Homo sapiens: one gene and its partners. The protein of the gene in region 6 purifies or fractionates together with the protein of the main gene of each other region. This does not show direct contact. Each region holds a gene or a part of one and is shown on either strand. Other genes may lie near its edges.

The links.
Region 1: the proteins of PPP2R2A (region 6) and ECSIT purify together in Homo sapiens (affinity purification with mass spectrometry; 2 studies listed by BioGRID and IntAct, with this or other methods). This does not show direct contact.
Region 2: the proteins of PPP2R2A (region 6) and SRPK1 fractionate together in Homo sapiens (co-fractionation; one large-scale study listed by BioGRID). This does not show direct contact.
Region 3: the proteins of PPP2R2A (region 6) and KSR1 purify together in Homo sapiens (co-immunoprecipitation; 2 studies listed by IntAct). This does not show direct contact.
Region 4: the proteins of PPP2R2A (region 6) and RPS6KB1 purify together in Homo sapiens (affinity purification with western blotting; 2 studies listed by BioGRID). This does not show direct contact.
Region 5: the proteins of PPP2R2A (region 6) and PPP2R5C fractionate together in Homo sapiens (co-fractionation; 2 studies listed by BioGRID). This does not show direct contact.
Region 7: the proteins of PPP2R2A (region 6) and CDCA4 purify together in Homo sapiens (affinity purification with mass spectrometry; 4 studies listed by BioGRID and IntAct, with this or other methods). This does not show direct contact.

The regions. Positions count from the first base shown.
Region 1 is NC_000019.10:11,522,635-11,526,134, forward strand, and holds part of ECSIT (evolutionarily conserved signaling intermediate in Toll pathway, mitochondrial isoform 1 precursor), read right to left. Parts: intron 1,220-3,500; exon of another isoform or gene 722-1,219; intron 1-721.
Region 2 is NC_000006.12:35,869,099-35,872,598, reverse strand, and holds part of SRPK1 (SRSF protein kinase 1), read left to right. Parts: coding exon 1-36; intron 37-1,639; coding exon 1,640-1,665; intron 1,666-2,104; coding exon 2,105-2,318; intron 2,319-2,697; coding exon 2,698-3,117; intron 3,118-3,488; coding exon 3,489-3,500. UniProt on the Homo sapiens protein: Serine/arginine-rich protein-specific kinase which specifically phosphorylates its substrates at serine residues located in regions rich in arginine/serine dipeptides, known as RS domains and is involved in the phosphorylation of SR splicing factors and the regulation of splicing.
Region 3 is NC_000017.11:27,459,448-27,462,947, reverse strand, and holds part of KSR1 (kinase suppressor of Ras 1), read right to left. Parts: intron 1-3,500.
Region 4 is NC_000017.11:59,899,621-59,903,120, reverse strand, and holds part of RPS6KB1 (ribosomal protein S6 kinase beta-1), read right to left. Parts: intron 1-3,500. UniProt on the Homo sapiens protein: Serine/threonine-protein kinase that acts downstream of mTOR signaling in response to growth factors and nutrients to promote cell proliferation, cell growth and cell cycle progression.
Region 5 is NC_000014.9:101,764,709-101,768,208, reverse strand, and holds part of PPP2R5C (serine/threonine-protein phosphatase 2A 56 kDa regulatory subunit gamma isoform), read right to left. Parts: intron 3,056-3,500; exon of another isoform or gene 1,160-3,055; intron 1-1,159.
Region 6 is NC_000008.11:26,354,008-26,357,507, reverse strand, and holds part of PPP2R2A (serine/threonine-protein phosphatase 2A 55 kDa regulatory subunit B alpha isoform), read right to left. Parts: intron 3,041-3,500; coding exon 2,875-3,040; intron 1-2,874. UniProt on the Homo sapiens protein: Substrate-recognition subunit of protein phosphatase 2A (PP2A) that plays a key role in cell cycle by controlling mitosis entry and exit. Involved in chromosome clustering during late mitosis by mediating dephosphorylation of MKI67.
Region 7 is NC_000014.9:105,014,584-105,018,083, reverse strand, and holds part of CDCA4 (cell division cycle-associated protein 4), read left to right. Parts: intron 1-3,500. UniProt on the Homo sapiens protein: May participate in the regulation of cell proliferation through the E2F/RB pathway. May be involved in molecular regulation of hematopoietic stem cells and progenitor cell lineage commitment and differentiation.

The DNA of each region.
Region 1 (3,500 bases), on a different chromosome or scaffold from region 6:
ACCTGGGAGGCAATGTTACAGTAAGCTGAGATCGCGCCACTGCACTCCAGCCTGGGTGACCGAGTGAGACTCTGTCTCAAAAAAATTAATTAATTAAATTTAATTAAATAAAAGTTACAACTTTAAACACTGAGGGGCTAGTAAAAAGAAAAAAGGTCGGGCACGGTGGCTCACGCCTGTAATCCCAGCACTTTGGGAGGGTGAGGCGGGTGGATCACGAGGTCAGGAGATCGAGACCATCCTGGTTAACACGGTGAAACCCCATCTCTACTAAAAATACAAAAAAAATAGCCAGGCGTGGTGGCAGGCACCTGTAGTCCCAGCTACTCAGGAGGCTGAGGCAGGAGAATGGTGTGAACCCGGGAGGCGGAGCTTGCAGTGAGCTGAGATCCCACCACTGCACTCCAGCCTGGGTGACAGAGTGAAAGAAAAAAAAGTTACAGCTGAATGTGCCTGCCTCTCCATCTACCTCCTCCACCACCTCTTCTGCCTCTGCCACCCCTAAGACAGCAGGACCAACCCCTCCTCTTCCTCCTCCTCCTCAGCTTACTCAATGTGAAGACGATGAGAATGAAGACCTTTATGATGATCCACTTCCACCTAATGAATAGTAAATTCAATGTGTTTTCCTGATTTTCTTAATAACATTTTCTTTTCTTCAGCTTATTGTAAGATTATAGTATTATATATATATATAACATTAAAAAATATGTTAATCACCCTTTCCCTGCCACTGCCGAGTTGCGCGGAGGCGGAGGCTTGGGTATGTTCAAGATTCAGCTTCACCCATAACCCACTGCCATGGCCGAGGGAGGCATTGCTGCTGGAGGTGTAATGGATGTTAATACTGCTTTACAAGAGGTGCTGAAGACCGCCCTCATCCACGATGGCCTAGCACGTGGAATCTGTGAAGCTGCCAAAGCCTTAGACAAGCGCCAAGCCCATCTTTGTGTGCTTGATCCAACTGTGATAAGCCTATGTATGTCAAGCTGGTGGAGTCCCTTTGTGCTGAGCACCAAATCAACTTAATTAAGGTTGATGACAACAAGAAACTAGGGGAATGGGTAGCGCTCTGTAAAATTGAGAGAAGGGAAACCCTGTAAAGTGGTTGGTTGCAGTTGTGTAGTAGTTAAGGACTATGGCAAGGAGTCTCAGGCCAAGGATGTCATCCAAGAGTACTTCAAATGCAAGAAATGAAGACATAAATCTTTGGCTCACATAAAAAAATAAGTTAATTGACTGTTATGTAATCACTGAGACCTCTGGACAACAGTGGGCTATTAGTAGTTAAGATTTTTTGTTTTGAGACAGGATCTCACTCTGTTGCCCAGGCTGGAGTACAGTGGTATGATCATGGCTCACTGCAGACTTGACCTCCCAACTCAAGCAATCCTCCCACCACTGCCTCCTGAGTAGCTGGGATTACAGGTGTGCGCCACCACACTCAACTAATTTTTACAATTTTTATAGAGGCTGGGTTTCCCTCTATTTTCCAGGCTGATCTCAAACTCCTGGGCTCAAGCAATCCTCCCACCTCGGCCTCCCAAAGTGCTGGAATTACAGAGGTGAGCCACTGCACCTGGCTGGATTTTGGGGGTGTCAAAAGTAGCCTGGCAGGGTGGCTCACGCCTGTAATCCCAGCACTTTGGGAGGCCGAGGTGGGCAGATCACGAGGTCAAGAGATCGAGACTATCCTGGCCAACATTGTGAAACCCCATCTCTACTAAAAGTATAAAAATTAGCTGGGCGTGGTGGCAGGCGCCTGTAGTCCCAGTTACTCGGGAGGCTGAGGCAGGAGAATCGCTTGAACCCAGGAGGTGGAGTTTACAGTCAGCCGAGATTGCGCCACACTGCACTCCAGTCTGGATGACACAGCAAGGCTCCGTCTCAAAAATAAATAAATAAATAGAGCACCCCACTGAAGGCTGGGCACAGCGGCTCATGCTTCTTATCCACTTTGGGAAGTCAGAGTGGGAGGATCACTTGAGCCCGGGAGATCAAGAACAGCAAAAAGAAAAAAAAAAAAGAAAGAAAAAAAATACCAGCTGGGTGTGGTGGCACTCATTTGTAGTCCCAGCTACTCAGGAGGCTGAGGTGGGACGATCACTTGAGCCCAGCAGTTCAAGGTTATATGAGCTATGATTGTGCTACCACACTCTGGCTTGGGTGACAGAGTGAGACCCTATCTCAAAAATAAAAAAATAAAAAATAAAAAGCACTCTGGCCAGGCGCAGTGGCTCATGCCTGTAATCCCAGCAATTTGGGAAGCCAAGGCGGGTGGATCACAAGGTCAGGAGTTCAAGACCAGCTTGGCCAAGATGGTGAAACCCCGTCTCTACTAAAAATACAAAAATTAGCGGGACAGGGTGGCGGGCGCCTATAATCCCAGCTACTAGGGAGGCTGAGGCAGGAGAATCACTTGGACCTGGGAGACAGAGGTTGCAGTGAGCCGAGATTGCACCACTGCACTCCAGCCTGGGCAACAGAGTGCAACTTCATCTCAAAAAAAATAAATAAATAAAAATAAACATAAAAAGCACTGCAATGACTTTCATATGCACCTAGGATTAAGACCTTAATTTAAATTTTCAGGGCCAGGCTCGGTGGCTCATGCCTGTAATCCTAGCACTTTGGGAGGCCATGGTGGGAGGACTGGTTGAGCCCAGGAGTCCAATACCAGCCCTGACAACATAGCCAGACACTGTCTCTATAAAAAAATTTAAAAATTAACCAGGCATGGTAGTATACACCTGTCTGTGTTCTCATTCCTTGGGAGGCTGAGGTGGGAGGATCACATGAGCCTGGGAGGTCCAAGCTACAGTAAACCAAGTTCATGCCACACACTCCAGCCTGAGCAACACAGCAAGACCCTGACTCAAAACAAAAAAACAAAAACAAAAACAAAAAAACTACAGCTACTTAAAGTGTGTTCTAGGGACTGGCAGTGTCAGCAACATTTGGAAGTTTATTAGAATAGCAAAATTTGGCCGGGCATGGTGACTCACGTGTGTAATCCCAGCACGTTGGGAGGTCCAGGCCAGCTGATCACCTGAGGTCGGGAGTTCGAGACCAGCCTGACCAACATGGAGAAACCCTGTCTCTACTAACAAAAAAAAAAAAAAAAAAATACAAAATTAGCCGGGTGTGGTGTATGCTTGTAATTCCAGCTACTTGGGAGGCTGAGGCAGGAGAATTGCTTGAACCTGGGAGGCAGAGCTTGTAGTGAGCCAAGAGCACACCATTGCACTCCAGCCTGGGCAACAAGAGCGAAACTCCATCTCAAAAAAAAAGCAAAATCTCGGCCCTATCCCAGACCTACTGAACTGGAATCTGCATTTTTTTTTTTCCCAGGCGGAGTCTTGCTCTGTCGCCCAGGCTGGAGTGCAGTGGTGCAATCTTGGCTCACTGCAACCTCCGTATCCTGGGTTCAAGCAATTATCCTGCCTCAGCCTCCCGAGTAGCTGGGATTACAGGCACATGCCACCATGCCTGGCTAATTT
Region 2 (3,500 bases), on a different chromosome or scaffold from region 6:
AGCGATCTGGAGCTCCTCCGCCTTCCGGATCTGCAGGTGTATTTTCTTTTAGGGACTTCGCTATCATTAGAAGTTAAAAAGAAATTTCTATTTTTATTCTGTTACCAGGGAATTAAACACCACTCAATCCATTTCAACAATAACATATTTAAGAAACATTATCAGCTTCCAAGAGACATTCTCACTGTTACTTCCATAGGGGAAGGAGAAAACTAGATATTGTGTCTTTGTGTTGTATGTTATAAAAGCTGGTGTGTATTGTTTAAAAATATTTTTTCTTATGAGTTGATGATTTTTGAAGTGTTTACCTCTAACTGTGATCACACATGCTCATTTATAGGACTGGTAGTCTGTAGAGGGACAAGATAACATTGCTATTAATAGTTTAGGTTTAAACACTGGAGTAGACAGACTTGGTTTGAATTTGGGCTTCATCCTAGACTGAGAAACCTTAGCTGAGTTATTTTACTTTATTTTCCCTCAACTGCGAATTATTGGGATTAAATGGTAAAGCAGTTAGTAGTGTGCCACACAATATTATATACCAAATAAATTGCGGGACCAGGCACAGTGGCTCATGCCTGTAACGCAACACTTTGGGAGGTTGAGGTGGGTGGATGATTTGGGCCCAGAAGTTTGAGACCAGCCTAGGCAACACAGTAAGACCCTGTCTCTACAAAAATTAAAAAAATTAGCCAGGCATAGTGATGCGTGCCTGTAGTCCATTTACTCAGGAGGCTGGGGCAGGATGATTGCTTGAGCCTAGGAAGTCAAGGCTGCCACGAGTTGTGATAGTACCACTGCACTCGAGCATAGGCAACAAAGTGAGACCCTGTCTAAGACATAAAATTAAATAAATAAATAAAGGCTGCTTTATGATTTTTTTTCTTTTGAGATACAGATTTTAGTTTTAGTAGTGTGTCATTTTTTAGGAACTTGCTTGATCCTCAAGTTGAGTTATTAGTTATACACTTCTTTAAAAAGGAAGACTAAAGAAGGGGGAAATGGGGAGTTGGTTGTTAAATGGATGTAGTTTCTGTTTTACAAGATGAAAACATTCTACAGATCCTGTTATACAACAGTGTGAATAGTGTTAAAACCACTGAATGTACACTTATCTAGAGTATAAATTTTTATTATGTGTTTTTTGTTAACCACAGTTATTATACTAATATTTTAAAAAGAGGAAGACTGAAGATCCTACCTTCCAGCTAAGCTACACTGTTATCCATGACATGCTGTAGAGCAAATTACTATAGCTCTTGATGTCACCTAGACTCCCCTTTTAAAACTGACAGATTCTGGGTAGCATTTGAGGTGAAGAGGTTGTTGCTTGTCCCATTCTATTTTAAGCAGTGCATGGGAATGGAAAATAGGTGATTTTTAGCAACTTTAGTTTACCTGGGGAGGAAGAATTTTATTTATCCCTTTTTTTTAAGTTTGGCAATTTCTATTCATTATTTTCTTTAAAAATGGTAATAATATAGCTTCTACTTAAGTCATTTAAAAACAATAGTTTTCTCTGCAATGTAGACTACATAAGAAAGACTTTTCATTCTGGTAGAGTGTTTTATCTGAGCCTTAGTTTATATTGCCTGATGAATGCCAGAATTCTTACTTGGTTTTCTTTTCTTTTCAGTCAGTACTGCTCCCCAGCCTAAACCAGTAAGTATAAGGTGTTTTTATATTTAATTTTGATCTATGGACTATGGGCATGGGTTCTTCTGTTGTGGATGGTAACAGTTTGTTTCAAGTTTGAGAACCAAAAGGAAAAAAAATTCCTGCGCTTCTATAATTTTCTCCAGTAAATTCCCATGCACCTTCATCACATTTGTACTGGTGAGGCCTCTAAAAAATTCGAGTTTGTCTGAATGTAAACCAACCCCACGGACTGCTCAGAAGACCACACTTTGTTATTTATTCTGTTTTTATTTGGGTTTATAAGAGTATCCCGCATCTTTTAATTTAATGAAAGACTTAAGTGCTATGTTAGGGAAAGATTTGTGAAATTTAATTAGGAAGTAATTAAAGTTAACAACTATCTCCAACTGGGGGTAATTAATTAGCCACCTGAAGGCTTTATCTGTTTGTAATCTCCGCCCAGGCTGACAAAATGTCAAAGAATAAGAAGAAGAAATTGAAGAAGAAGCAGAAGCGCCAGGCAGAATTACTAGAGAAGCGAATGCAGGAAATTGAGGAAATGGAGAAAGAGTCGGGCCCTGGGCAAAAAAGACCAAACAAGCAAGAAGAATCAGAGAGTCCTGTTGAAAGACCCTTGAAAGAGAACCCACCTAATAAAATGACCCAAGAAAAACTTGGTATAAATAGAACATCACGAAAATTACTGTACAACACACTTTAACGTTAATTTATCATTGCTATATAATACAGTGGTTTCATACATACAACACATCTCTGGGGGTATCTTTATAAGAATATGGATCTTGTCATAAATGTTAGGCAGGTAATATTTAAATGTAATTTGTAACTTTTCTCAGGAAATGGAACATAGATTTCATTTAACAATTGGGTAAAAGTAAGATCTTGGCCCTTCCGGAAATAGGTTTTAGATGTTTAGTCATGTTTTTATGTCACTCAGTATAAGTTCTAGAAAATGTTTTAATCTTGTGAGAAATGTTTCTGTTCTTTCACTCACACACATATGCATATATCTTTTTTTGTTCGTTTGTTCCTTAGAAGAGTCAAGTACCATTGGCCAGGATCAAACGCTTATGGAACGTGATACAGAGGGTGGTGCAGCAGAAATTAATTGCAATGGAGTGATTGAAGTCATTAATTATACTCAGAACAGTAATAATGAAACATTGAGACATAAAGAGGATCTACATAATGCTAATGACTGTGATGTCCAAAATTTGAATCAGGAATCTAGTTTCCTAAGCTCCCAAAATGGAGACAGCAGCACATCTCAAGAAACAGACTCTTGTACACCTATAACATCTGAGGTGTCAGACACCATGGTGTGCCAGTCTTCCTCAACTGTAGGTCAGTCATTCAGTGAACAACACATTAGCCAACTTCAAGAAAGCATTCGGGCAGAGATACCCTGTGAAGATGAACAAGAGCAAGAACATAACGGACCACTGGACAACAAAGGTACCTATGCAGCTATACTTCCTCAACACTCCTTCCCTGCACAACACATTCACAGATTTCTAGACTAAAAGTATGATTGTTTTTGTAACTATAGCTTTACAACAGGTGTGTCTAAGTTACGTTTAAATTGTAATCTGTAGCTAACTTTATCCATCATGTACTGAGTACACAGCACTTCATTTGTTGCTGTGAGGGCAGAGGTTTTTAATTCTGGAAACTCAAGGCGTTGCTGTGCTCTTTTTGTCTCAGAAAATGTAAGTTGTCACTTGGGTATTGCTGACTGTATTACTCTTACCTTGGAGAGCTTTATTACTCATTGAGTATTTCTCTGTTCATTGAACAGTCTTATTGATGATGCCTGTTGTCTGTAGGAAAATCCACGG
Region 3 (3,500 bases), on a different chromosome or scaffold from region 6:
ACACAATGCAGCCACTAATAGTGCTGATGCATATGTATATGTGCTGATACAGACAGAAGACATTTACAAGGCAATGCACATGGTATGTGCCACAAATATACACATGTACATTTATATGCAAATGCAGGAAGAATATACAACAAAATGTGCACTGGAATTAACTCTGAGAGGTGGCATTATGGGTGATTTTCACTGTTGTACATCTAGTACTTTCTTTTTTATAGTGAACATATATCATTATGTATTTTGTAAATATTTTAATTAAAAGTAGAAAGTTAAAGAATACACTGTTTATCAGAGGAACTGTTCAGAAAGAATAAGACAGGTAGCCATTTAAAAAATTATGAGTAAACTGATCTCTAGGCAGCTTCTCCTTTCTCAGAATGAGACAAGCGTAGAGCGGGCTGCATCATGGTGCTGAGAGTCCTGTCTTTGAGGATGTGCTAGCCTGGACATTAGGGAAGCAGACCCATGCCCGAACCCTGAGGCTGCACAGCCTGGGTGGCCACCAGGAAGCCCAAACATCTAGAGTTGAGCCACGGAATGCCCTCGGCCCAGCCCTTTTTATTATTGGCCATTTCCTTGGTCTCAGCAACCATGGCCCTGCACAGAATCTCCCCGCCACAGCAACAGCTGTGGAGTTCTGAACATAAGTTCTCAAGACCAGTCAACCTGGGTTCAACCACCTGCTAAGACAGTCTCTCCATCCCTCTGAGCTGCAATTCCCTCATCTGCAACATCAGGATAAGGCCTCATAGCATCATTGTGAATGTTAAGGTGCAACATATGCCGAGAGCCTAGTGGAGTGCTCAACATAGAACAGGTGATCAAGCACGTTCTTCATCTGTGTCTGCCCTCTCTACTCCAAGATCATTCCCCTAACCCCAAAGGCACCTATGCAGCTTTCCCTTTGAATTAAACATAAAAAAGAGATCTCAACCAGCCTCTTCTGAAAGGATGGCCTTTTAAAAAGGCATAGCTTAGAGAGACTTGGCCACAGGCTTTGCTGCTTCTCCCCGGCATTGCAGACACTGCCACCGTGGGCCAGCGTCTCCGCATGGTCCATCTCCAGACACACCCAGCGGGCAGGAGTAGAATACCTGCGGCGCACTTTCCTGGATTTTGAGGCAGCCCAGACCACTCCAAGAAGAGGAAACAACCCTGACGTGGAAGAAGGCATTCCCATAGCTGCAGGCAGCAAACCACACCTCCAGATCTGATAAGACCTCTCTCCAGCACCACCCAGCCCTCCCCAGGCTCACAGCCACTGCGGGTCTCCCTCCAGGCTGCCTCTAAGAAACATTTGGGAGGTAGGTTTCACCAGGGAAAAAGTTACCCGGGTGAAAGTGGACACAAAAAAGGGCCAGAGCCCCAGCTCTGTATCTCTTCAGAGACGGCTGGAGCCACTTGGCCAGAGGGTTACAACTGTGGCCACAGAGCAGAAGCAGAGAAACGCCACACTTTGAGACAGTGGCTGGGTGGGAAAGCAAAACCAGGTTTCAGTCTCAGTTCTGCCAGGGACCTGTGACTTGGGAGAAGTCCCCAAGACTCTGGGAATATTTCCCAGAAAACCAGGAGGTGGCTCACACTTGTAATCCCAGCACTTTGGGAGGCCAAGGTGGGTAGATCACTTGAGGCCAGGAGTTCGAGACCAGCCTGGCCAACACGGCAAAACCCTATCTCTACTAAAAACACGAAAATTAGCTGGACATAGTGGGGCATGCCTGTAATCCCAGCTACTCAGAAGCTAAGGCAGGAGAATTGCTTGAACCTGGGAGGCTGAGATTGCAGTGATCCGAGATCATGCCACTGTACTCCAGCCTGGGCGACAGAGTGGGACTCTGACTAAAAGAAAAACAAAAACAAAAACAAAAAACAAAACAAAACAAAAAAACCAGGAGGTTGGATGGGCCAAGGGTTCAGTGGGGTTCCCAATGCAGGGTCCTGCAAGCTGTGCTACTAAAGTCATTACTGTGCCCTGCCTGGCTCCTTCACTAGACTAGAACTGTCCCTAGACCCCAAAGACTGGGAGAACAGCCCACCTACTTCAGAGCCCTTGCTAGGTGGCTGCCAGCCAGGTAAGCACATCAACAGTAACTAAAGGTCTGTCCAGGGAACGTGCCTCAACACACCCTAAGGACCCAATCTGCAGGAATGCCACCCCTCCCCTCTCCCAGCAGTTCCATCATCAGATGCTCCTGGGAGGCATAGGGAGAGCTCAGGTCCCCCACACGGTGGGACTCTGACCTCTGCCACGGCAGAGCTGTGTGAGGGCCAGGCCTCTCTGACCTTCCAGATGGCAGGAGGGCCTCCCCTCTGACCCCCTGCGGCTCCAGGGCAACTGCTCAGGAAAGCAGCCCAAGGGCAGAGACTGTACCTACCACAGTTCCCAACATCGCCTCCCAGCACAGCCTGACTCTGCACCTACCACAGTTGCCAACATCACCTCCCCCAGCAAAGCCTGATGGTCAAAGTCCTTCAGCCCCTTTCTCCACGCCAGCTTGCTTAGGAGGGATTTTTCTCCACAAGAACACAAGGTGGGGAGACTCAGCATGGCAGAGCCTGTCTCTGGAAAGTACTAGTAGGCTGGCAGGAAAGGGCAAGTCACAATGTCCCTGGAACATAAATCTCCATGAGGCAACATGTGTCTGCTTCTACACACCCTTGTCTCCCCAGCGCTGGGCAGATTCAAAGGAATGAAGGTAATTATTACTGGCATAGGTTGCAGGCCCAGCTATTAGGCAGGCCAAGTGTCCCTCTGTGAGTACACTGGGGCATAAGAACATTCCCGTTTGCCTCGGTGGAGTTTTCAGACCCCTAGGAGGGTCTAGCGGAGACAGAACACCAGCTCCTGCCAGGATGAAGTAGCCTCACAACTTCTGTTTACAGATTAATACCCTGGTTTCAAATTGTGCCTCCCTCCCTTTATATTTAGAGAGGGAAAATGTGTATGATGAAAACTGCTGATCTCCAGGAACGTGTGTGAGTTTGAGAAGAGTCAGGCACGCTGCTAGGCACACAGGCAGCAAACGTTAAGTCTCAGCTCCTTCTACCCTTTTCCATCCAAACTGGACCACCACACAGAGAAAAGCTATCCCCGGACAACCAGACACGCTGACCCACTACACCCCATCACAACCCAATTTCAGGCAGCAGCAGCCCATCCCTGGTCAGGGACCTCCACGGACATTTCACGTGCTGCTTCTCCCACTGAGTGTTTATTTAATGAAGGCCAGAGTGAGCTGGGGCTCCTCAGATTCTAGATAAGTCCGATGCAGTTGCACAGGCCAAGCCCTCCAGGTCAGATCCTTCTTCAAAAGCCAGGAATCCAGTGTTGCAAGCACAGTCTCTGGGGCCACGGCCTGGTGTGTGGGGAGCCCACAGAACAGGAAAGAACGCTGGAGTGGACACTGCCACTTGCCTGCCTGGCCCCAACACATGCTGCTGGCGGTGGACGGTCCCACCCAGCTTGCTGAGATTGTTTCCTGGCTTGTGTCACC
Region 4 (3,500 bases), on a different chromosome or scaffold from region 6:
TTGGCCAGACTGGTCTTAAACTCTTGACTTCATGATCCACCCAGCTCGGCCTCCCAAAGTGCTGGGAATACAGGCCACCATGCCCAGCATCGGCTCATTTTTTGTAGAGAACAGGTTTCATCACGTTGCCCAGGCCGGTCTGGAATTCCTGGACTCCAGCGATCCACCTGCCTCAGCCTCCCACAGTGCTAGGATTATAGGCATGAGCCCCCACACCCAGCCTTCTAAAAGGTTTATTCAGGCCAGGCGAGGAGGTGGCTCATGCCTATAATCCTAACACTTTGGGAGGCAGAGGCAGAAGAATTGCTTGAGGCCAGGAGTTTAAAACCAACCGGGACAAAATCACGAGACCCCCATCTCTGCAACAAATCAAAAAATTAGCTGGGAATGGTGGCACGTGCCTGTGGTCCCAGCTACATGAGAGACTGAGGCAGAAGAATTACTTCAGCCCAGGAGGGTGAAGCTGCAGCGAGCTTTTTCACGCCACTGCACTACAGCATGGGCAACGGAGTGAGACCCTATCTCCAAAAAAAAAAAAAAAAGAAACAAAAAATGCTTTATTCACAATTCAGTTGAACATCTGAATGAATAACTCAAATGAACATCAACCGGTAAATGGATAAACAAAATGCACTGTAGCCATAAAACAGAATAACTATTTGGCCCTAAAAAGAAATGAAGTACTGATACATGTTACAACATAAATGATCTTCAAAAACTTTATGCTGTGGCTCACGCCTGTAATCCCAGCACTTTGAGAGGCCAAGGCAGGCGGATCACTTGAGGTCAGGAGTTTGAGACCAGCCTGGCTAACATGGCAAAACCCCATCTCTACTAAAAATACAAAAATTAGCCAGGTGTGGTGGCGCACACCTGTGGTCCCAGCTACTCAGGAGGGTGAGGCAGGAAAATTACTTGAACCCAGGAGGCAGAGGTTGCAGTGAGCAGAGATCACACCACTGCACTCCAGCCTAGGTGATAGAGTGAGACTCCATCTCAAAAAAAAAAAAAAAAAAAAAAGTGAAAGCCACCAAATATAAAAGGTCATACACTATATGATTCCATTTATATGGAATGTCCAGAAAAAGCTTTTTTTTTTTTTTTTTTTAGAGACAGGTTCTCATTCTGTTGCGCAGGTTGAAGTGCAGTGGCAGGATCACGGCAAACTCAACCTTGGAGACTCAAGCGATCCTCCAACCTCAGCCTTCCAAGCAGCTGAGACTACAGCCGCACACCACCAAGACGGATAATTTTTTTCTATTTTTCGTAGAGACACGGGTCTCACTATGTTGCCCAGGCTAGTCTCAAGTGATCCTCCTGCCTCGGCCTCCCAAAGTGTTGGGATCACAGGTATGAGCCACACTGGGCCTAGAAAAGCCAAATCTATAGAGATGAGAAATAGGTTAGTTGCCTGGGGCTGAGGGTGAGAATCAGAAGTAACTAAATTGGCCAAAACTCTGTTTCTTTTTTTTTCTTTTTTTTTTTTTTTTTTTTTCAGAGACAGGGTGCTGTTATGCTGCCCAGGCTGATTTCAAACTCCTAGGCTCATGCGCTCCATCTGCCTTGGCCTCCCAAAGTACTGGGATTACAGGCGTAAGCCACCATGCCCAGCCCCAAAATTTCTTTATAGGGTGATAAAAATTTCCTTTTTTTTTTTTTAAGATGGAGTCTCGGCCAGGCGCGGTGGCTCACGCCTGTAATCCCAGCACTTTAGGAGGCTGAGGCGGGCGGATTGCAAGGTCAGGAGATCGAGACCATCCTGGCTAACACGGTGAAACCCCGTCTCTACTAAAAATACAAAACATTAGCCGGGCGTGGTGGCGGGCACCTGTAGTCCCAGCTACTCGGGAGGCTGAGGCAGGAGAATGGCGTGAACCTGGGAGGCGGAGCTTGCAGTGAGCCGAGATCGCGCCACTGTACTCCAGCCTGGGCAACAGAGCGAGACTCCGTCTCAAAAAAAAATGCAAGGTCTCACTCTGTTGCCCAGGCTGGAATGCAGTGGTGCAATCTCGGCTCATGGGAAACTCCACCTCCCAAGTTCAAGTGATTCTCCTGCCTCAGTCTCCCAAGTAGCTGGGATTACAGGCATGCACCACCACGCCTGGGTATTTTTGTATTATTAGTAGAGACAGGATTTTACCATGTTGGCCAGGCTAGTCTTGAACTCCCAACTTCAAGTGATCCATCTGCCTTGGCCTCCCAAAGTACTGAGATTACAGGCCTGAGCCACTGCGCCCGGCCGAGTGGTAAAAATTTCTAAAACCTAATTTTGGTGATGGCTGCACAACTCTGTAAATATACTCAAAGTCACTGAATTGTATAAACAAAAAACAACAAAAAACTTGGCAGCAGAATTTCAGTTACTGACATTATAATATATAGCTTTAAAATCAATCTAATCTGATTATGAACTCTCAGTTTACACGAAAGGATACTAATTAATTTAAAATAGACTCCAGGCCAGGCGCGTGGCTCACGCCTGTAATCCCAGCACTTTGGGGCCAAGGCAGGCGGATCACCTGAGATTGGGAGTTCGAGACCAGCCTGGCCAACATGGAGAAACCCCGCCTCTACTAAAAATACAAAAATTAGCCAGGCCTGGTGGCGGGCACTTGTAATCCTAGCTACTCAGGAGGCTGAGGAAAGAGAATCGCTTGAACCCAGGAGGTGGAGGTTGCAGTGAGCCAAGATCGCGCCATTGCACTCCAGGCTGGATGACAAGAGTGAGACTCCATCTCAAAAAAAAAGAAAAAGAAAATAGACTCTAAAACATTACAAGTCTTTAAGCAATCATGTCAAAACTTTAGAGTAGTTAAGATATTAAAGTGAATATATCTTTCTTCAAAACTACCAGTACACAGCCAACATACACAACAAAAACACATAGGGGTGTGTGTGTGTGTGTGTGTGTGTGTGTGTGTGTGTGTGTGTGTGTGTGTGTGTGTGTGTTTAGCAATTAGGTTTCTGTCACCCAGGCTGGAGTGCTGTAGTAGGATAATAGCTCATTGCATCCTCAAACTCCTGGGCTCCAGTGATCATCTCTTCTCAGCCTCTGGAGTCACTAGTGCCAGGCGTGTGCTGTGTGCTACTATGCCCACTATTTATTTTTTTAATTTTTTGTACAGATAGGGTCTTGTTTTGTTGGCCAGGTTGGTCTCGAACTCTTGGCCTCAAATGATCCTTCCACCTTAGCTTCCCAAAGTTCTGGGATTACAGGCACGAGCTATCATACCCAGCCAAAAACTGATAGTATTCTTATAGAATAAATGTTCAAATGCCCCCAAAACACAAAATTTTAGTCATAACTCACTCATGGTGTGACCAAATCACGATAACATGTAATACCAGGAATGTACACTTCATGATTATACCCAGGCAAAGAGATGGGGCAGTATCAAGGGGGAAAAAACCAATTCTCACCATTTTAACTGGATACAGTTTCTTTTATGTGTGGGATATGGGGGTGGTCATGGTTAAAGGTTTTTTTTGTCTTTGTTGCT
Region 5 (3,500 bases), on a different chromosome or scaffold from region 6:
ACAGGGGGCGATTTGATCCTCCAGGAGACATTAGACAATGTCCAGACAATGTCTGGATGCATTTTGGTTGTCACAGTTGGTGGGGGCAGTGGGCCACTGGCATCCAGGGGTAAGGCCAGGGATGCTGGTGAATGTCCTACAAAGTAGAGGACCACTGGGCAGCCCCACAACAAAATATCTTGCCCCACAGTCAAGTGTTCAGATGGGAACCCTTGGTCTAGAGCAGTGGAGGTCACAAAGGAGGTACCTGGGGTCTACCGACCTTGCAGCTTGTGATGTAGGACAGGAATGGGGGCTAGAGAAGGGAGCTGCCTAAGGAAGAACCCACCACTCCCTCAAGCCTCAAGGGCAGCAAGCTCAGGACATCTGCCTCCTAACAACCCCAAAGCTCGGGAGCTGAGGCTGCGGCTGCCAGGGATGGATCCTCCCCGCAGAACCTCTTTCTGATGCCCCTGGGCTCTAAGGAAAGACCATGGGGAGGCGCTGGGAAGAGGGAGCCAAGACGTGGCAATTAAAAGCAAATGATTCCATTTACTCCATAATCATTACATATGAATTTCAAAAAGATTTTTAAAGTATTACTTCTCTTGGTCTTCTCTTTCACTCAAGTTCAGCTTAGGGTTGTATGGAAAAAAAGGTGGGAAGAGACTGATGGAAGCTAAGGCATAGGGAGGTTCTAGCGAAAGCCCCAAGCTCAGAAGTGAGCCTACAGGGGTGTCAGGGGCTCTCCTTGGAGGAGTTGTGCCGAACAAAATGACTGTCCTTGTCCTCCTCCTTACTCAGGTAAAAACTCTTGCTACAGAGACTGTGAAAAGGAGTATTTCTTGCAAAGATATTTTTCATAACAATGTTGTTAACATTTAATGGGTGTATTATTAAATATTTTTAAAATTTCAATTTTAATTTCTAAAAAAATTACCCTTCCGCCTAGCACCTATGCGACCTGAGGCGACTGTCAGTCTCCCTAGGTCTAGACCATCAGGGAGTGGTGGCACTGGAATGTAAAGGGACAGATTATAACAGGAAAAAATTTACTAAAGGTAGAAGGTGGCAAAGCTAGCTAACGAGTTGGAGAGAGGATTGTTCTTTCTCTTCAGCAACAGATATTATGTAAGAGTTGCTGTAGAGACTTTCAAACAAAACTAAGCTGAAGCAGGTGTAAAATACATGACAATACTCAAACGACCTTTAATGTGCTTAAAACGAATCACTTTACAAAAAGCATGAACACTTCTAAAAATGTAACATTGGACACAGTACACACACTTAAAAGAAACAACACCCACCTATGGTCTGATCTTACAAAATGGACTTGAGGAAACTCAGAGCAATTTATTAACATTCTAAATAATCATAAAATGTGCCTAGTTATGTTTCCACAGATTTGAAGGTTACACTGAGAACAGATGCTCAAAAGTGAGTCTCCTTTGTCAATCTCCACAGAATTTTCCAACTTCAAGTGACCCATGAGCCCGTTTTTTGCCTCTTTCCTTAAGACTTCCTATGAAATAAATCAGCAATAAGTAGTGGGAAGAAACTTTTATTTCCAGGACACGTGTGCAGAAGCAACAAGTCAAAATTAACCATTCTATCTGAAAGAGAAGAAACATGTACCAACACATGTCATTCAAGGAGTAGAAGTTTCTAGAATAAGGCAAAAGTTACAGGGCAGCAGTTATGACCTTTAATAGAACTTTGTTACACTGAAAGATACAGCCTGCCATACTTGCAGGGAAAATGTCTTTCAAGAAGGGTAACACCCAATTTCTTCCATACATTTAAAAATAGCCTAATCTTAAACTTATCAAATCATTTTAGGGATGAGAAAACAGGGTCACACAAGTTAGGTGACATCATTTATGGCAAAGCAAGAATCGGCATGTTTATTTTCTAACCCCCAAGCTGAAATATTTTCCACTGTACCACTCTACCCTATACTCCAGGACTTCATCTTTCTTACTGAAAAACCCAAACCATCAAATGTCCCCTTGTTCTACCCAAGAATTGTTCTGCAACATACGCCACCTGCTTTCTTGCTTTCTATGAGGCTGAAGACTAGACAGGCAGGAGTTTATTATACAGACCTGCCATATACTTGAAGTAGTGTGTTAAGTCAACCAGAGGCCAAGTTCTTGAATGCTTTCTCTGTTTGGATTATTTCCACGCTGTCTGGCTGCTCTGCCCTGGACAGGTCCCTGCTCTGCACATCTCTCAAGGCTGAGAAGCCCCAACTAGGGTAACTGTCCCATCAGAAGGTGAGTTCACTGGGTAATGGGAGCAACTGCTCATTGTGAAGGTGACATGATGTTAAAAGGCTTGAAAGGGGCTGCATGGTGGCTAACGCCTGTAATCCCAGCACTTTGGGATGCTGAGGCAGACGGATCACCTGAGGTCACGAGTTCGAGACTAGCCTGGCCAACAAGGTAAAACTCCGTCTCTACTAAAAATACAAAAAAAAAAAAAAAAAAAAAAAATTAGCTGGGCATGGTGGCAGGAGCCTGTAATCCCAGCTACTTGGGAGGCTGAGGCAAGAGGATCACTTGAACCCGGGAGGTGGAGGTTGCAGTGAGCCGAGACTGTGCCATTGCACTCCAGCCAGGGAACAAGAGTGAAACTCTGTCTCAAAAAAAAAAAAAAAAAGGCTTGAAAGCAGCATGGGAATGTCAAGCCTATTTAAATTGTTCAGGTTAAAATATTCAAGTTAAGAGTAATACTGAGAGAGAGGAGAGGGAAAAAGTGTGCAATAATGGTTTAATTCACCTGCATGAGTCAATCATATTTGGTAAGTGGGTGGAACTAGAAGTGAAGCAGTGAGCTGAAGACTGAGGGGAAAAAAAACAATAATAAAATTTAAGGGTCAACTCAAAGGTCAAATGAACAGAAGTGTCCCAACTTGTATTCCTGAAAAACAATTTACACAGTGATCTGCCAAGTGTCAAGCTTAATATGCCAGGTTGCCTCTGGTATCCTTATGAGGAAGCAGTGAAGGGCCCAACATTTCAGTGTTTTCAGTGGTAATTTCAAGCTCTGTAGCTCCAGCTCTTAGACAGTAGCACTAGAAAAAATACAAAAAGACAAGTGGGGCATCATACTCAGGCACTGCAGGCCACACCGCAGGTCTCACACGGCTGGCAAACTGCTTTCAAAACACACATTTCACATAGTAGTGATTTTGGTATCTTTGAACTACTGAGATTTTTCAGGTTTAAACTTAACATTATTCATCCTTACAGCCAGGATCTTCCCACTAAAAATAGAAATAAATGATATATACACACTGATGCTCCTTTGTATAAGGAATATAGCTAAAGTAAGAGGATATAGGCACATTAGCAAGAAAGCTCTGGGGAGAAGAAATCTTAGCAGTTTTAATGAAAGATCAAAAGACCAAAAAAAAAAAAAAAAAAGGCATATAGCATATACCTTCATAAAGCACCTACATTTCATCTTCATCGAAATGAATTTAGTCAAAAGGGTGACAGGGAAGAAAGAAACAAGTC
Region 6 (3,500 bases):
GCTTGAAGGAACATTAAATTAACTCAAGTTATAAGGTGACTATGACGTCCTTTAAGTAAAAATGATCTGGGAAACCCAGTTCATATAATGATCATGGAAAGCCAATGCAAATATTTTTATAAGATTAATTTTGGTTAATCAAACCTGGAAAGTTTGGTACTATTTTCCATCATTCTCCCACAGATATAGTTTTTATATAGACCCATTATATTGGGGGGGGGGGGTGTTACTATGCTCACAGAAAAAACTCACAGAGAAAAATACACAAAATAATATAAAAGATATCACTCAGAATCAACAGATGTTGACATTTTTCTCTAAGTCTCCTTCTTTCCAAATAGTTTTTCAGATATAGTTCAAGTCCTACTCCTCCCATCCTTTTCCCATCTACCCAGACACAACAGTTCATATGATTCTCATAATCTGCTTTATCCTTCCACATTGGACTCTATTATTAAGCACTTATTTTAGCATTAAAAAATGCAGCCCCCAGTTAGCTGTATTTTACTTAGTATTAAGAAACAAAAGACAAAAATCTACAATGCATTCTCTAATGTCTTTAAACAAGATTTAATCCATAGACGTTGTAATCGGATTTGCTTCGAAATAACACTGAGGAGGAGGGGAAGGGGAAGGATCCGAGACACAAATTAGCCATGAACTGAGGAGTGTCAGAAGTGGATGATGAGCATGCAGGGCTTCACTATACTATTCTCTTGAACTCAGCCTACATTTAAAAAGTTCTCTTTATAAGAAAGCTGATGTAGCCCTATAAGAAATAAACTGACATAAAAATATTCCAATATATAAAATGTTAACAACACATTTCCCTAGGAACATTTACTTCTAAAAGTAGAAATTATATAAATGGTTTAATTATGTATCATCTGATGCCAAAGAACAGTGTCTAAAATATTTGAAGCTATTTGAAATAACTTAGTTTACCATATAAATTAAAACTGACCCAAGACTAGAAGCTAGCATATGACAGGAATAAACTGTTCCCTCCACCCATAGTGCTGTGATTTACAGGCTTTAAATAGTTACTTCTCTTTATTTTTCTTCTAATAAGGACAAGAGAGGGGAATGCAGTCTATTGTGAAAACAGAGAAGGCAGAGGGTACGCATCTCAATGGACTGGCTGGGGAAAGCTTTCATGATCAGAAAAACGGGCACCCAGGAGGCGGCCAACGCTGATGGCCATCAGGCATTTGTGAACAGCATTTCTAAGAACTAATACTGTGGACGAGGGGCATCAATTAGATGGAGGAAGTGCTGAATTTCTTCCCCCATTTCATCCTGAAGTCATTTAAGTATATATTCTGCAAATGTTTATGGTCTAGGTGTTAGAATTTGCTTTTTAAATTAATAGTGAGGGGATGAGAAAATAAGAGGTTCCCCTCACCCTAGCACCAACCTCAAAAAAGTTTTAATCACAAATTTTTATAGACTACGGCTACCCAGAAACTAAAGTATCTCCTCAGTCACTCTAATGATTCCCTTTAGACTCAAGACCCCAACAAAGTCCAAACAATTCACAGGAAAAAGTTTTTCATAAGAACAAAGAGAAAGCACCCAACTCATCATAAAGGATTTCAAATTCTGGTAGAGTCATTACTAACTTTTTTTTTTTTTTTTTGAGACGAGTCTCGCTCTGTTGCCCAGGCTGGAGTGCAATGGCGCGATCTCGGCTCACTGCAAGCTCTGCCTCCCAGGTTCACCCCATTCTCCTGCCTCAGCACCCCCGCCCCAGTAGCTGGAACTACAGGCACCCGCCACCACACCCGGATAATTTTTTTGTATTTTTAGTAGAGACACGGTTTCACCATGTTAGCCAGGATGGTCTCAATCTCCTGACCTCGTGATCCACCCGCCTCAGCCTCCTAAAGTGCTGGGATTACAGGCGTGAGCCACCACGCCCGGCCTGTCATTACTAACTTTTAATCCTCACTCAACTTTTCCTGGGCCAGGCATAGTGGCTCACACGTGTAATCCCAGCACTTTGGGAGACTGAGCGGGGCAGACTGCTTGAGCCCAGGAATTCAAGACCAGCCTGAGCAACATAGGGAGACCCAGTCTCTACAAAAATGTTTTTAAAAAATTAGCCGGGTGTGGTGGCACTCACCTGTGGTCCCAGCTACTCAGGAGACTGAGGTAGGGAGGTCGAGGCTGCAGTGAGCTGTGATTACACCAATGCACTTCAGCCTGGGCGACAGACATTGTCTCAAAAAACAACAAAAAATGTTCCCTTGGCAAGTAAACAGTAGGAGAGGAATCTCCTTCCAGCCATGTGGATTGCTGGGAAGAAGGCAATATGCTAATGGTGATCAAGTAAGAAAGTGCTCTCCTATAGCGTATCCTGGAATGGAGACCATCCTTTGAGTATTTTGTATCTGCAGTTTGAGATACTCTGTGTAGTTTACAAACACTTAAAAAGGAGGAATAAATTAACATTTATTGAGCACTTGCACTCATGATGTATGTGAAGTTATTTAATATTCATAATAATACTATAATAAAAAATTGCTATCTCTAGTTTGCTGCTGAGGAAAATTCAATTCAGTGTTAGTAACCTGCCCAAGATTACGAGACTGAGAAATGACAGAAATATTACCTGACCTAAATCCAATGGTATAGCAGCCCATTCTTTTCACTACAAATTGGAGGTGTAGTAAACAAAAAATTGCTATCAGAGAATCTTTCAGAGAATCTAAAAACTGCAAGTGACAGTAAAAAAGTAGAGTTTACATTCTGTATAGAAAAACAAAAGTCCTTTTTACAAGTATCTCTGTTAAATGATTCCTCTCCTAGGCTACAGGATATGTGCAACAGGTACACACAGTGGGCACATGGAAAGAAAATATGTATACTTACCATTGGTAGACAATAAAAACTGAGCAGCATTTTTCTGGGGTAACCACCTAATTTTGTTGATCTTTTCTTCTATTTCTAAACTTTTCAAGTAGTCAAACTCTGGTTCATGGCTCTGGAAGGTGCTGTAAACATTATATTCTCCTCTGCTATGAGACTGGATTTTGTTCTAAAATGAAAACAAAAATATATGGACCATTGTTGAAAAATATTTCAAAATAATCAAATATGTAATCAATTCCAAAGGACCCTGCACATTCTCAATACCCCATTAGTTGTGTCTTTATACAATTACATTCTGTTTTTTATATTTCTAAAGGCCTTCAAGGATTAAATGAGAAAACTTAACGGGGGAAAAGGCTAAATAAAGCTGAATAAATAAGCTCAATTCATTAGGGAAATAATGACGTTAAATATGGATCAATTTGATTGCTAATTTACTCTTATGTATTTGATGGTATAGTCTATGAAAAAAACTGATGAAAAAAAACTGAGCACCCATAATAAGGAAGTTCATCTAAAAATAATGATAAAGTCTTGCCCAGAAAGAGCTAGGTGAGGCACACCTTCTTCCTATGCCCACTTTAGGGTCAACTCCCCGATCTGTTATTTAATATGATGTATTGTCC
Region 7 (3,500 bases), on a different chromosome or scaffold from region 6:
GTGGCTACCCTTCTGTGTTTTCACAACTTAGATTAGCTTTGCCTGTCCTGAAGGTTCAGATCAATAGAATCCTACGGTACATATTTTTGTGTGTGTCTTGCTGCTTTTATTCAGCATAATGTTTTGAAATTTATCCGTGTTGCATAAATCATTGAGGTATGTTGCTGAGTTGCATTCCTTTGTCAGAATACACCAGATCGTATACATTCAACTTGTTTTAAGTGTTTTTTTTGTGTGTGTGTGTTTTTTTTTTGAGACGGAGTCTCGCTCTGTTGTTCAGGCTGTAGTGCAGTGGTGCAATCTCTGCTCACTGCAACCTCCGCCTTCCAGGTTCAAGCAATTCTCCTGCCTCAGCCTCCCGAGTAGCTGGGACTACAGGCACGTGCCACCACACCTGACTAATCTTTTGTATTTTTAGTAGAGATGGGGTTTCATCGTGTTGGCCAGGATGGTCTCAATCTCCTGACCTGGTGATCCGCCTGCCTCAGCCTCCCAAAGTGCTGGGATTACAGGCATGAGCCACTGTGCCCGGGCTGTTTAAGTCCTAAAAGAATGCTTGTGGCTGGGTGTGATGGCTCACTCCTGTAATCCTAGCACTTTGGGAGGCCGAGGTGGGCAAATCACTTGATGTCAGGAGTTCGAGACCAGCCTGGCCAACATGGCGAAACCCCGGCTCTATTAAAAATACAAAAAACTAGCTGGGCGTGGTGGTGCACGCCTATAATCCCAGCTACTCGGGAAGTTGAGGGAAGATGAGGCAGGAGAATCGCTTGAACCTAGGAGGTGGAGGTTGCAGTGAGCCGAGATTGCACCACTGCACTCCAGCCTGGGCGACAGTGAGACTCCATCTAAAAAAAAAAAGAATGCTTACAACTGAGAGTGATGAAACTAGGCCAAGGACCGCCCCCCACCTCCCCAGGAGCCTCTCTGGAGGCTCACACCTGCTGGTCCTGTCCTTGAATAGACAGAAAAAAGGTTCCCCCTGTTCTCTGAATTTCTTTTCGGTGTGATAGATCTCATTGCCTGTGCATTTAACACTCCTAAATTTTATAAAACGATTATTTCTTTGGCATTTATCCAAGAGAAATGAAAAACCAATGTTCATGCAAAAACATGTTCTAGAATGTCCATAGCAGCTTTATGTGTAATAACTCCAAACTGGAAACAAGGAAAAAGTTCCCTTCAGCTGGGGTGTGGTGACACTCTGCTCCGTCTGTGCCTCCAGATCCTACTCTGTTGGGAACTGTTGACACACAAGAGTTTGCAAGGATCTCAAGAGAATTATGCTGAAGGAGAAAAGCCAACCTCAGAAGGGTGCTTGCTGTGGGATCCCATTTATGCCACATTGTTGGGCTGACCCAGAGCTGAAGGGTGGCATGGCCAGAAAAGGACCTACACAGGGAGGCCAGGGTGTCTGGTCCTGGCAGGAGAGCAGCCGTGGAACAGGGTAGGAACACAGACGTGGAGCTCAGTGGAGGAGGGAAGGAACGCTTAGCTGTGGGGCTTAGAGACTTGGCAAAACAAGAGGAAGCTTTACCAGCAAGTGTGCAGAAATAGTGCGGGAGAAAGTTGGTGGAGCGTTCCACCTTCTTAGGATGCAGTTTAATAATGTTTATCAAGCCTCTTAAAAATGTACCTGCACATCACCCTAGTAAGTAAAGAGCCGAGGCTAAGGAAGCCAAATGCTAGAAATACCAAAACACCTAAAGTTAGAAACTGGTATCATTTGTGATTGGGAAAATTGTCAGTAGTGTGAAACTTCCCTCCCTTGTGCAGAGAGGAAAGTGCTGGGAGAAACGACTGGAAAGGAGGAACCCAGGTGGTGACTGTGTTTTTCTGAGTGGATGGGATCCTGGGAGAAAATTCGTTTTATGGTTTTTGATGCTCTTCCAGATTGTCTATGGTGAGCTGTGGAAATAAGCAACCAGGTGAGAACAGGCAGAGGCTGTTTATCCAGAGCTTCCCCTAGCAAGGGTGCGGCCCTCCTCTCTCGTGATTGGCAGAAACTCATAGGCAGGTGAGGGAACAGGAGAGCTTTACAGTGGAATCCAGGGAAGCTCAGGGATGGCTGATGGAGGCTGCTGACTTGGGGGACTGGGGTGGCCAGTTAGAAGTGGGGCTCCTGGCCTGGCACGGTGGCTGACGCCTGTAGTCCCAGCACTTTGGGAGGCCAAGGTGAGTGGATCACCCGAGGTCAGGAGTTTTGAGACCAGCCTGACCAACATGGTAAGTCTCTACTGAAAATATAAAAATTAGCCAGGCCTGGTGGTACACCCTTGTAATCCCAGCTACTCGGGAGGCTGAGGCAGGAGAATCCCTTGAACCTGGGAGGCGGAGGTTGCGGTGAGCTGAGATTGCGCCACTGCACTCCAGCCTGGGCGACACAACAACAACAACAAAGAAGTGGGGCTCCTGTGAGATGGCCTAGAACATGTTTGGCTTTCTCTGGTTGGTCCTAAATTGGAAGCAGGGACAAAAACTGGAGAGGTTGTCGGTTACTAATCATGTCCTGGCCATTTTGGGCTGCTTGCTATGGAAATGATTGTTTAGCTTCCTGGATTGTTCCTAGAGAAAGCAGCCAGGCTTCCTGCAGGTCTGACTAGGGCAACCTGGCTTCCTGGCCCGTTACTGAAGGTAAAGGGCTGGTTTCCGACTGATGGCGGCAGATAATGGCTGAGAGTTCTGTTTCTGTATGTGGTTCCGCCATTGTTTGTTGGTATATTCCCTCGCTCAGAGCAGATGTTATTAGGGTGATTTCTGACGGTCACGTATTGCTAGTGCTGCCCTTAGGACCGCTGACAGCACCAGGCCAAGCACTGAATTCATCCTCTTAAGATCCCCAGTGGGAGGCTTCTAGTATCCATATCTGGCTTTCAGAAAAGGGCGGGAGGGTCTGTCGTTGGGTTTGGACTCAGGACCTGGCATTTCTAAGGACTCAGAGGAAAGGAAAGTGGGACCCAGAGGGTCCTAGGAGCTTGGGACAGCTTCTTGAACTGGTTCCCAGTGTGGTTGTGGGTCTTCTTGGCCTGTCCCATTGGTATTCTTGTTCCTTCTGTGAGTTGCCCTGATTGCCCTGCTCAGTCGTGCTGACCTCCTGTAGGCCCCACATTATGGGGGTTGTGCTGCTGGGTTTCCAGAGTCAGGGGAGGCAGCCAGGGGTTCTTCTGTCTATAAACTTGGGCTTAATGCATGCTGTTCAAGAGGATTTGGTTTGGGTCCTAAATTAATCCATTGCTATGCAGGCTTGGGATTGAGATAGGTTGAAAGAGAAACTAAAAACCTAAAAGGTATATTGACTTCCCACAGAGGAACCCGTGGGACTTAATCTTTTCCCCAACGCAGGGTGTCCTTTGTAGTTTGACATAGCCTTATGTTAATTCTCGATATACTTAGCAATTTTAAGCCAGTGATTTAAACAATGGATTGGGATGGAAAAGCTCTGAAAAGTTAAATTTGTGGCTGACACAAAGAACTCGAATATTTACCAAAAGTAATAGAAA